2 separate regions of the Homo sapiens genome follow, and region 2 is linked to region 1. Evidence: fine-mapped expression QTL. A gene starts in region 1. The other region holds a variant in brackets. All regions are shown on one strand. Distances are between the middles of the regions.

Region 1 (4,375 bases):
GGGCCGGGCGCGGTGTAATACCTGTAATCCCAGCACTTTGGGAGGCTGAGGCAAGTGGATCACGAGGTCAGGAGATCGAGACCATCCTGGCCAACGTGGTGAAACCCCATCTCTACTAAAAATACAAAAATTAGCTGGGCGTGGTGGCACGCGCCTGTAGTCCCAGGTACTCAGGAGGCTGAGTCAGGAGACTCTCTTGAACCCGGGAGGCAGAGGTGGCAGTGAGCCGAGATCACGCTACTGCACTCCAGCCTGGCAACAGAGCGAGACTCTGTCTCAAAAAAAAAAAAAAAAAAAAAATTAAGAGACTGGAGTCTGGGCTTGCCTGGTGCAGAACCAGAGGCCTGACTTACAGCCCAGGCCTACCTCCCCCGAGCCCTGGTCCCTCCAGAGAACCCCAGAGGAAGAGACAGTCCGAGGCTCCTGCCCTTCCGCTGCCAGACCCTCAGCCTCCTGTAGCTTTCTGCCCCATTCCCAGATGCCATGAGGTGCTCTCTACCCTCCTTCTTGGGGTCCCGCTCCTGCAAACACCCAGGGACCTGAATGACATGAAGGGAGCCGGCTTCTGCCACACCACAGGGCAGGGCAGTTGGAGAAGGAGGGGCTTGGTAGGGCTGAAGAGAGCAGGACAATGTGGGGGTGGCCAGGATGCAAGAGGTGTCTGACTCAGGTTCTAGGCCCGTGCAGAGGGCTCTCCTGGCTCGGGGATCTCCTGGCATTCCCGATCTGTGACTCACTGCAATGCCCCACCCCAGGGAGCCACCTGTTCCCCCTATAGCTTGGCCTCCAGGCCCCACCCTGGCCCCACCTTGGCTTATAGGCTCAAAACCCTAGGAGTAACCCAGGATCGGGCATCTGCCTTCAGTGATGGGGAGGAACAGACAGCCTCTATGAGGAATGAGCCCCCCAAGTCCTCACTTCCAGCTGGGAACTAAACAAAGGCCATGCCCTGTTGGAAGCAGGAGTCCTGGGGATGCAGCCTCGGGCATACCTTTCCCAGAAGGTTCCCCTCTTCAACCCACTTCATGCCCACGCCCTGTGCCCTGCACACTCTTGGGAACCAGTCAAACCCGGGCTTCAAGGTGGCTGGTGCCAGCTCGCCCTGCCCAGCCTGTGACTGCACGCCCAGCCTGGCGCCCACCTTTACCCAACCAGGCATGGGAACACCCCTCAGCCCACCCTGCTGCAGGAAGCAGAGCCCAGGACCTTCTCACCAAGGTGTGGAGAGGGCCCAAGAAGGCCGCTTTAGGGCTGAGCTCTAGCCCATGGGCAGGAGCAAGGGCTGCTCAATACGTGGGGTGGTGGAGGAGGGGGAATGCCACAGGCTCTGCAGAGCGGGAGGCCCTACCGGTCCAGCTGCAGCCGCAGGGGCGAGGGGCTCTGGCGGATCTTGCTCTGGGCCTCGGCATGCAGCATGCCCTCCGCGCTTTCCCCGTTGATGGCCACGATTATGTCTCCAGGCCGGAGGTCAGCGTCCTTGGCTTTGCCCCGCTCGGCCACCTGTAGGGATGAGGAGCTGGCATGCTCAGACCGTGGCCCAGCTGGAGAAGGGACTTCCCACTCTGCTACCCAAGAAACACAGAGGCTGGCTTGACCCAGGCCGGCCTGCACCCTCCTGCATGTCCCTCTGCCTGCTCATGACACCCAGCTGATCAGCCATCCCCTCCAGGAGCGCAGGTGGCAGCCCCCACCCCACACTGGCATTCTAATGGGCCTCCCAAAGAATGTGCAGTGGCAGAATTTCAGGAACTGTGCTTGGAAATACTTTTGGATAGAGAGCCTTGCCCGTGCAAATCGCACCTTGCAGGTGGCTGCCTGCACAGCCCTCCTGTGAATGTTCCCAGCCTGGGCCCAGGTCAAGAGGAGACTGCCAAGAACTCCGGGGCTCTTGTTCTAGTAATCACCCCAAATGGCTGCCTGCAAGTGTGGGGATAGCAACTGGGGAGGCAAGAGCCGGCCCTGTCCTGGTCCCAGCTCCCTTTCACTCCCAAGGTCTGTTCCTGAAGTGGCCACCACATCCCCGTGGCAAAGGGCCACGGCTCCCTTACAGCCAGCACGCCAGGCAGCAGCAGATCCCTAGCTCCAGAACAGAAAAAGCAAGCCATCTGTGCAGAGTGGGGTGAACAGGGCCGACCTCGCTTCTGGCAGGACCTTCTCATCTCTTTGAGCCACCATCCTTACCTTAGTCACCATGATGGGCGTGTGGAAATCCCTGCCCCCTGTGATACGGAAGCCCCAGGGCGCTGGCCCGGCCACATCCACCGTCAACGCCATACCTGAGGAAGAGAGGACCAGGAGGTGAAGTCCATGCCCCTAGCCGGCTCTGGGGGCACTGTAAGGCAGCAGGAGAGGAGCCAAAGGGAGAAGGAGAGGGCACCACAGCTCCCGGAGCAGCTACTCAGGGGCTTTGGGGTGGGTAGAGGAAGTGGCTAACTCCCTCCCTCAGCCCGGTTTCACTTCCCCCCACCCTGGGAAGCCATGCTTCTGGGTTCTCCCTTCCTTAGTCTTCAGCCCAGGGAGCGACTCCCAGGAGGGGGCTGCCCAGGCTGCCAGGCAGGGGGCTTGCTGGAGCATGGGGGGCAGGGGCTGGCAAGTGGAGGGGATGCCAGCACCCCCTCAGTCTCCCCTCCTCCACCATCAGGGCTCAGTCCCACTAGCGCTTGCTTCCTGTCCCCAAAACCCACAGCACACGGTACTTCCTCTCCACTCTGGGGGAGGGCTGGTGAGTGGCCTAGGGAGAGCAGGGCTCAGGAAGCAGGAGTGACGGGTCAAGGAACAGGCTGGCACCAGTACAGACTGTGTAAGTCACTGGCCAGGTGAAGGACTGGTGGGGTGAGGCCGAGTCTTCACATGGGCCTCCTAGCTGCCCACCTCGTTCTTGGCAAAGTGGATCACACGGGCAAGACCGGGCTCCCCACCTCCCCCAGGGGCCGGCTGCCAGGGCAAGGAGGCCAGGGTTCATCTGTCAAGCTGGACACACCCACCCCCAGATTCCTGATGCTGCCCGACAGACAGCCGGGGTGACAGGCCTCCCATCCACAGCCCCTCCGCTGGGCAAGGAAGTGCCCTTGCAGACAGACCCCTGTGGGATTTCCTGAGCCTCTAGCTCTGGAGCCAGGAGCCAATCCAGGCAGGAAGCCGCGGTGCCAGGCTGGGCACCACCCTGCCCAGCACCCATCCTGGGGCTGCCCTGGGGACGCAAGTGCTGCGAGAATCTATCAAGAGCACCAGCGGTCTGTCCGCTCCATCCCCGGCTGCCTTCCCCTTGGGCCCAGGCCTAGCCTCTGTTCCCAGCACCGCCCCCACCCCAGTCCCCGAGGCCGGCTCGCGGCCGCCCCGAGATTCCCAGACCTTTGAGCCGGTCAGTGGACTCCGCGCTGCGGGCGCCGCGGGGAGGTGCCCAGCCCGATGGCCCGGCTCTACCAGTTCTGGAGCCTCCTTCGCTCCGAGGGCAAAGTACCCTGCGGGCTGGGGGCTGGAGGAGGAGCGCTCCGGCCGGGGAGAGCGCAGCTCGCGGGGGCGCCCCCGCTGATGCGAGGCTCCAGGGAGCTGGGCCGCGGACGAGGCCAGGGTTCCGCGCCGACAGGGGCGCGGAGAGGAGCCCGGCGCCGGGGAGGGCGGGCCGCGCGGAGAGGCGCAGGTGGGCGCGCTCACCTGGCTGCCGCTCACCTGTCCGGCTGGGCGCCCAGGCCCGGGAGGGAGGGAAGGCGGGGAGACGCCACCGCTCCCGCTGCCGTCTACCCGACTCTGGGGAGAGCCCGCCCGGGGCTCCCGGACCTGCCTCCGCCCATGTGATCCCGGGGCCGCCCCTGCCGCCGCCCCTAGCCCGAGAAGCCGCCGCCTCCGCGCGGCGAGCCCAGGCGCTGCCACCTGGCCCGAGCCCGCCGGGGGGATGAGGCAGGCTGTCCCCAGGGCCCCCTGCAGGCTGCGACCGTCCAGCCGGTGGTGCCCGCATCCTCCCCGGAGCGCCCGCAAGCCCCCGACTGCCCGGAGCACAGCAGAGCCGGTCCAGGGACTGCCCCGCGCCCCACTTCGCAGACGATCGAGGGGGCAGCCCCATAAAGCTCTCCCACGCCGGCCGCGCTCTCCCGCCCCGCATCCCCAGGTCCTGGGCAGGGTGGGCTGCCTGGGTGTGTCTGCGGTCCGCCTGGCTCCTCCACCCACTCCAGGCTGGGAGGCTGGCGCAGATGCGGCCTTGACACCCACAAATCCCAAACCAAGGCCACCCTCCTGCCCGCCAACTCCCTTCCTGAACGCTGGCTTCTCGGCAGCGCAGAACTTCTCTGCCTGGAATGCCCGCAAAGGGGGACCCGCAGGGGCCCTAGGAGATGGAGAGAGCCTCCTGGCTAGGGGTTCACTGGGCACCCCCACCCCT
Region 2 (4,375 bases), 60 kb before region 1:
CAAGATAATACACTGAAGGCACCTAACACAGTGTCTGGCACAAAATAAGTCCCCAGTTAACTACATCACAGGAAGCTGGTTGATTTGACCTTCTTTATGAACCATCAGGGACTCAGCCTGTCCCAGGCAGCTAGATTTCCCAACGCAACAAAAGTCGGCTGGGCCTTTGATCTCTCACAAGGAATCACAGCTGAGCTACAGCTCGGAGTAGTTATTTGCTTCCCTGGCCTATACCCCTCCACTCCCCAGAGGCACTGAAGTAGAAGTAGTAAGACCCTGCCTCTTCAGTCTCATTCCCCACCCACCACCCCCTCCCGGCCCCCAAAACAGGCCTGGGCTGTGCAGTTGTCTCAGCATCTCTGGCAGCTGCCCTTGAACAGCAGTGACGCACTCTGTTGTTCTTGCCCAGGCACTTTCAGGGAGGGGAGCAGCTGTGGCTGCCTGGGTTATTGGAAGTCATGGAGCCCCTGTCATGGGAAGAAATGCTCACGTTATCTTCAGGGAGTTTCAGGAGGTTTTTGGCTCAAGGCACCCAACTGTCAGGCACAAAGAAAGCATTGTGTCCCTACCCTCACTGCTCTCCTGTGCCCAGGTTATTAACACAAATTCCATTATTGTCAAGGCTTTGGCTAGAATGGCTTGTTCCTGCTGGGGCTGACCATTAGAACTGAGATGGAGGAACAAAAGCTCCCCCGATCCCGATCCTAACCTTCCACCCAGTCCCCTCCCACTCCCCAGGTCCCATAAAGTGGCGGGAGCATCGTAGCGTAGGAAGAAGCCGCCACACCTTCCTCCATAACCTGGGAGGATGGAAGAGCTCTTCGAAGCTTTGCTCTTCGTGTCCCCCTGAAACAAGGGTTACTGTGAGTCTTGCACACAAGGAACATGCGCTCCAAGGTTCCTAGCCAGGTGGGTGCTCTGCAAAGTTAGGGCAAAGAGAGTCTGGCCACATGCAGCCTCTCCACTGGAGAAGGATTTTCATCTGCCAGGTGGCGGGGCCCTTAGCCTCGTTAATCCTGCTTAATCCTGCTAGAACATACCTACAGGGAGCCCACTTTCCACGCAGAGCATCCCTTGAAGGAGGGGCTTCCCAGAATGCTGAGGATTCTGGGCTTCTCAGACTCCGATCAGATGCACCTCAGCCCTGGGATCAGTGCCCCAGCCCTGCCTGCCAGTTTCCTTTTTCACTTCACCATGAGCATAAGTTTGGGTGGGAACTCAGCCTGTTCATTCACTTCATACTGAGTTCCCACTCTGTGCCAGGGCCTGACCTGTGCACTGCCAAAAGAGCAGGGAACAGCAAAACCCTTTCCTCCCACCGTGGGCCTTGGAGAATGAATGCAGGGGGTGGCCACGGGTAGTCGTCTGGGGCTTGGTTCTCCCTGAGCTAACCTCGCCAGCCTGGCCCAGCTTGCCCTGATCCCCTGATGGTCCGTGCACATGTGTTTATACTTGCATTGTTGACTGGGGTCCAATTGCCTTTTTGGCAAAGGCATCAAGCATTCAAAGATGTTCAGATCTTTTCTGTCTGGCTCTTTTCCTCGGAATGAGGCTCCAGTGTGTCCCTTTAGTCCCTTAGCCATTATCTGAGAGGCTAGAATTCTGGCAGTGTCCCCGTGCATCTTTCCCCAGTGGAGGAGAGAACTCTCGGACCAGTGAGCTAGAGAAGCAACCCACCCCGGCCGCTGGAAGCAGGGGAGGTGAAATGTGTCCAAACTCCTCTCAGGCTGTCAGATGGCCTTGAGCGGCACCAAGTAGAAAACGCGCTCCCACCCCTGACCTTCTCCTCAGCTTCATTGTGAGACCTCAAGTTCCTCAGCTTCCAGGATGATCAACCTAGCTGAAAACCTGAAGTCCCTCCCGGTACAAGTCCAAGCAGTCCCCAGCCAGGGAGACCAGGTGTTGTCTGACATCCCACACACATCGGCACACTTGGGGGATTGCAAAAGGGAGGAAGGGAGCCAAAGGCTAGGGCCCCGGGGTTCAGCTAACACTCAGCACCCCTCCCAAAGAGCGCCCCCTGTGTGTTCTGGATCTCTAGAGGGGTTTGGTTTGGGCCAAGTAGTGCTTAGTTTTAATTTTCTCTTTCTGGAAATAAATACTTTTAATAAGTAAAGATGCTGCTCAGCTGTCATATCCTGCAAGGTTAGAGGAAAGATGTGGGCCGTGCGCGGTGGCTCATGCCTGTAATCCCAGCACTTTGGGAGGCCAAGGCAGGCAGATCACTTGAGGCCAGGAGTTCAAGACCAGCCCAGGCAACATGGTGACCCCATCTCTACCAAAAAAAAAAAAAAAATTCAAAAATTAGCCGGGTGTGGTGGCTCACTCCTGTAGTCCCAGCTGTACGTGGGAGGCTGAGGCATGAGAATTGCTTGAGCCTGGGAGGCAGAGGTTGCAGTGAGCAGAGATTGTGCCACC[G/A]CGCTCCAGTCTGAGCGACAGAGTGAGACTCTGTCTCAAAAAAAAAAGAAGAAGAAGGATGTGTCCAGCAGGCTGGGCACAGTGGCTCACGCCTATAATCCCAACACTTTGGGAGGCCGAGGCGGGGGGGATCACCTGAGGTCAGGAGTTCGAGGCCAGCCTGACCAACATGGAGAAACCCTGTCTCTACTAAAAACACGAAAATTAGCCAGGCGCGGTGGCACATGCCTGTAATCCCAGCTACTCGGGAGGCTGAGGCAGGAGAATCGCTTGAACCCGGGAGGCGGAGGTTGCGGTGAGCCGAGATCACGCCATTGCCCTGTAGCCTGGGTGACAAGAGCGAAACTCCGCCTCAAAAGAAAAAAAAAAAAGTGTGTCTAGTAAAGGGAGCTAGGGCATTATCACAACACCCAAGCATGGGACTCCACCCTTAACCAACATCAGGGTTTCCCTGGCTGCTAGTTTCCTGTGTGCTTGGGGCAGCTTATAGCCCAGGTTTATAGCCCAGCCTGCAGCCCCAAATTGCTCTGGTCTTCCCAGCACCCCAGTGAGCAGGAGAAAAACACAGAAACTAACATTTAGTGAGGACTGCCATGGGCCAGGCACCTTGCAATCTGCTCTACACGCACTGCCTCTTAATCCTCAAAAGGAACCACTGGGGTAGATGATATCAGCTATTTCCTCGTAAGCCACCTAAAGTTGGCTGGGTGAGGTGGCTTAAACCTGTAATCCCAGCACTTTGGGAGGCCAATGCAAGAGGATCACTTGAGGCCAGGAGCTCAAGACAAGCCTAGGCAACATAGCAAAATCCCGTCTCCACTAAAATTTAAAAAATTAGCCAGGCATAATGGCATATGCCTATAGTCCCAGCTATGCAGGAGGCTGAGACAGAAGTATTGCTTGAGCCTAGAAGGTCAAGGCTGCAGTGAGCCATGATGCCACCATCGCATTCCAGCCTGGGCAACAGAGCAAAACCCTGTCTCAAAAAAAAAAAAAAAATGCTTAGTACTATCAAGTCTCCACAGCTAGTATCAGAGTTCATATCTTACCTGTCTCTGCTCATGCCTCTAAACTGCATTCTTCCAGCCCTGCTGGAGAAAACCAGGCTGACACCAAAGTACAGACTTTCAAGGGCCCTGGCGAGGCTCCTTCACACCAAAGCAAATTTCCCACCTGCAGTTACACCAGAGTCTTTCCGTTCCTTTAGCTAAGACTTTGGTTCCTGCAAACTTGTAAATCCCCTGGGACAGGCAACACTTTAAATGCTCATCAAGCATTTGTGCTTTAGTGGGAGTGATTTTTGAATTTTTTTCTTACGAGTAGCTTTTGCTGGATCCTAAGGTAAGTAATGATAAAAATAGTGGGTTCCTGGATGGAGAAAGAGTCTGTTGAAAAGAGGAAGAAAGATTGTAGGATGGGAGGCGGGGGCACCAATGGTGGGTTTTACTTCACAGTTTTGTGGAAGGTTCTAGATGCTAGGATCATAAAGTAAGGAAAAGATCATTTTTTTCCTGCTTCTGGATTTTACAGTTGAAATGAGGAAGGTAAGCTATCTCCATGCAGTGAGTCTGTTGTCATGCCCAGAGAGCCAGAGCTAAGCAGACTCTGTGTTCAACTCTCTCTGGCCTCATTCCTGCTGTCCAAAAGGCCCATCATAGTCAGCAAGTAAATTTGTATCTGGCAGTTGTTTATCTCCACCACCAGGGCCCATGTCTGTTTGAATCACCAGGGTATCCCCAGAACCTGGCAGAATGCATCGCACTTAATAGGTGCTCATACATGTTCGTAGGAATGAATGTTGTTTAAATTTGAAACAAAAAGACCTGAACCAGGACTCTGGATTCTAGCCTTGCATTGCCACCAGAATGTCCTGCATCCTTAGGGAAGTCACTCCTGTCTCTGGGCTTCGGGCTCCTCATTTGTAGCATAAATGCTGTTTTGTCATTCCAGGGCTATG

Direction of the effects. Positions count from the first base shown, and alleles are read on the strand shown. Sizes are in standard deviations (SD) of each study's normalised expression.
For the expression in monocytes after LPS of the gene that starts at base 2,404 in region 1, G is the low allele of the variant in region 2 and A is the other (large effect, 1.1 SD a copy in Fairfax 2014).

What was found. PIP is the estimated chance that this variant, and not a neighbour inherited with it, causes the effect.
Region 2: its variant is the best candidate, but not a certain one, in a credible set for the expression of PDLIM2 in monocytes after LPS (Fairfax 2014, PIP 0.83).

What each region holds. Positions count from the first base shown.
Region 1 is chr8:22,578,504-22,582,878 of GRCh38, reverse strand. It overlaps PDLIM2 (PDZ and LIM domain 2), which reads right to left and starts at 2,404. Exons shown (of 9, transcript NM_001368120.1): 1 at 2,182-2,404; 2 at 1,349-1,500. The coding sequence starts at 2,274. RefSeq lists silencers at 509-803, 2,368-2,457, 3,188-3,347, 3,358-3,447, 3,548-3,617 and 1 more and enhancers at 478-1,170, 3,944-4,375.
Region 2 is chr8:22,638,276-22,642,650 of GRCh38, reverse strand. All of the region lies in intron 2 of BIN3 (bridging integrator 3), which reads left to right. It overlaps BIN3-IT1 (BIN3 intronic transcript 1), which reads left to right and starts at 442. Exons shown (of 1, transcript NR_027715.1): 1 at 442-2,280. The variant G/A (reference allele first, on the strand shown) is at 2,419.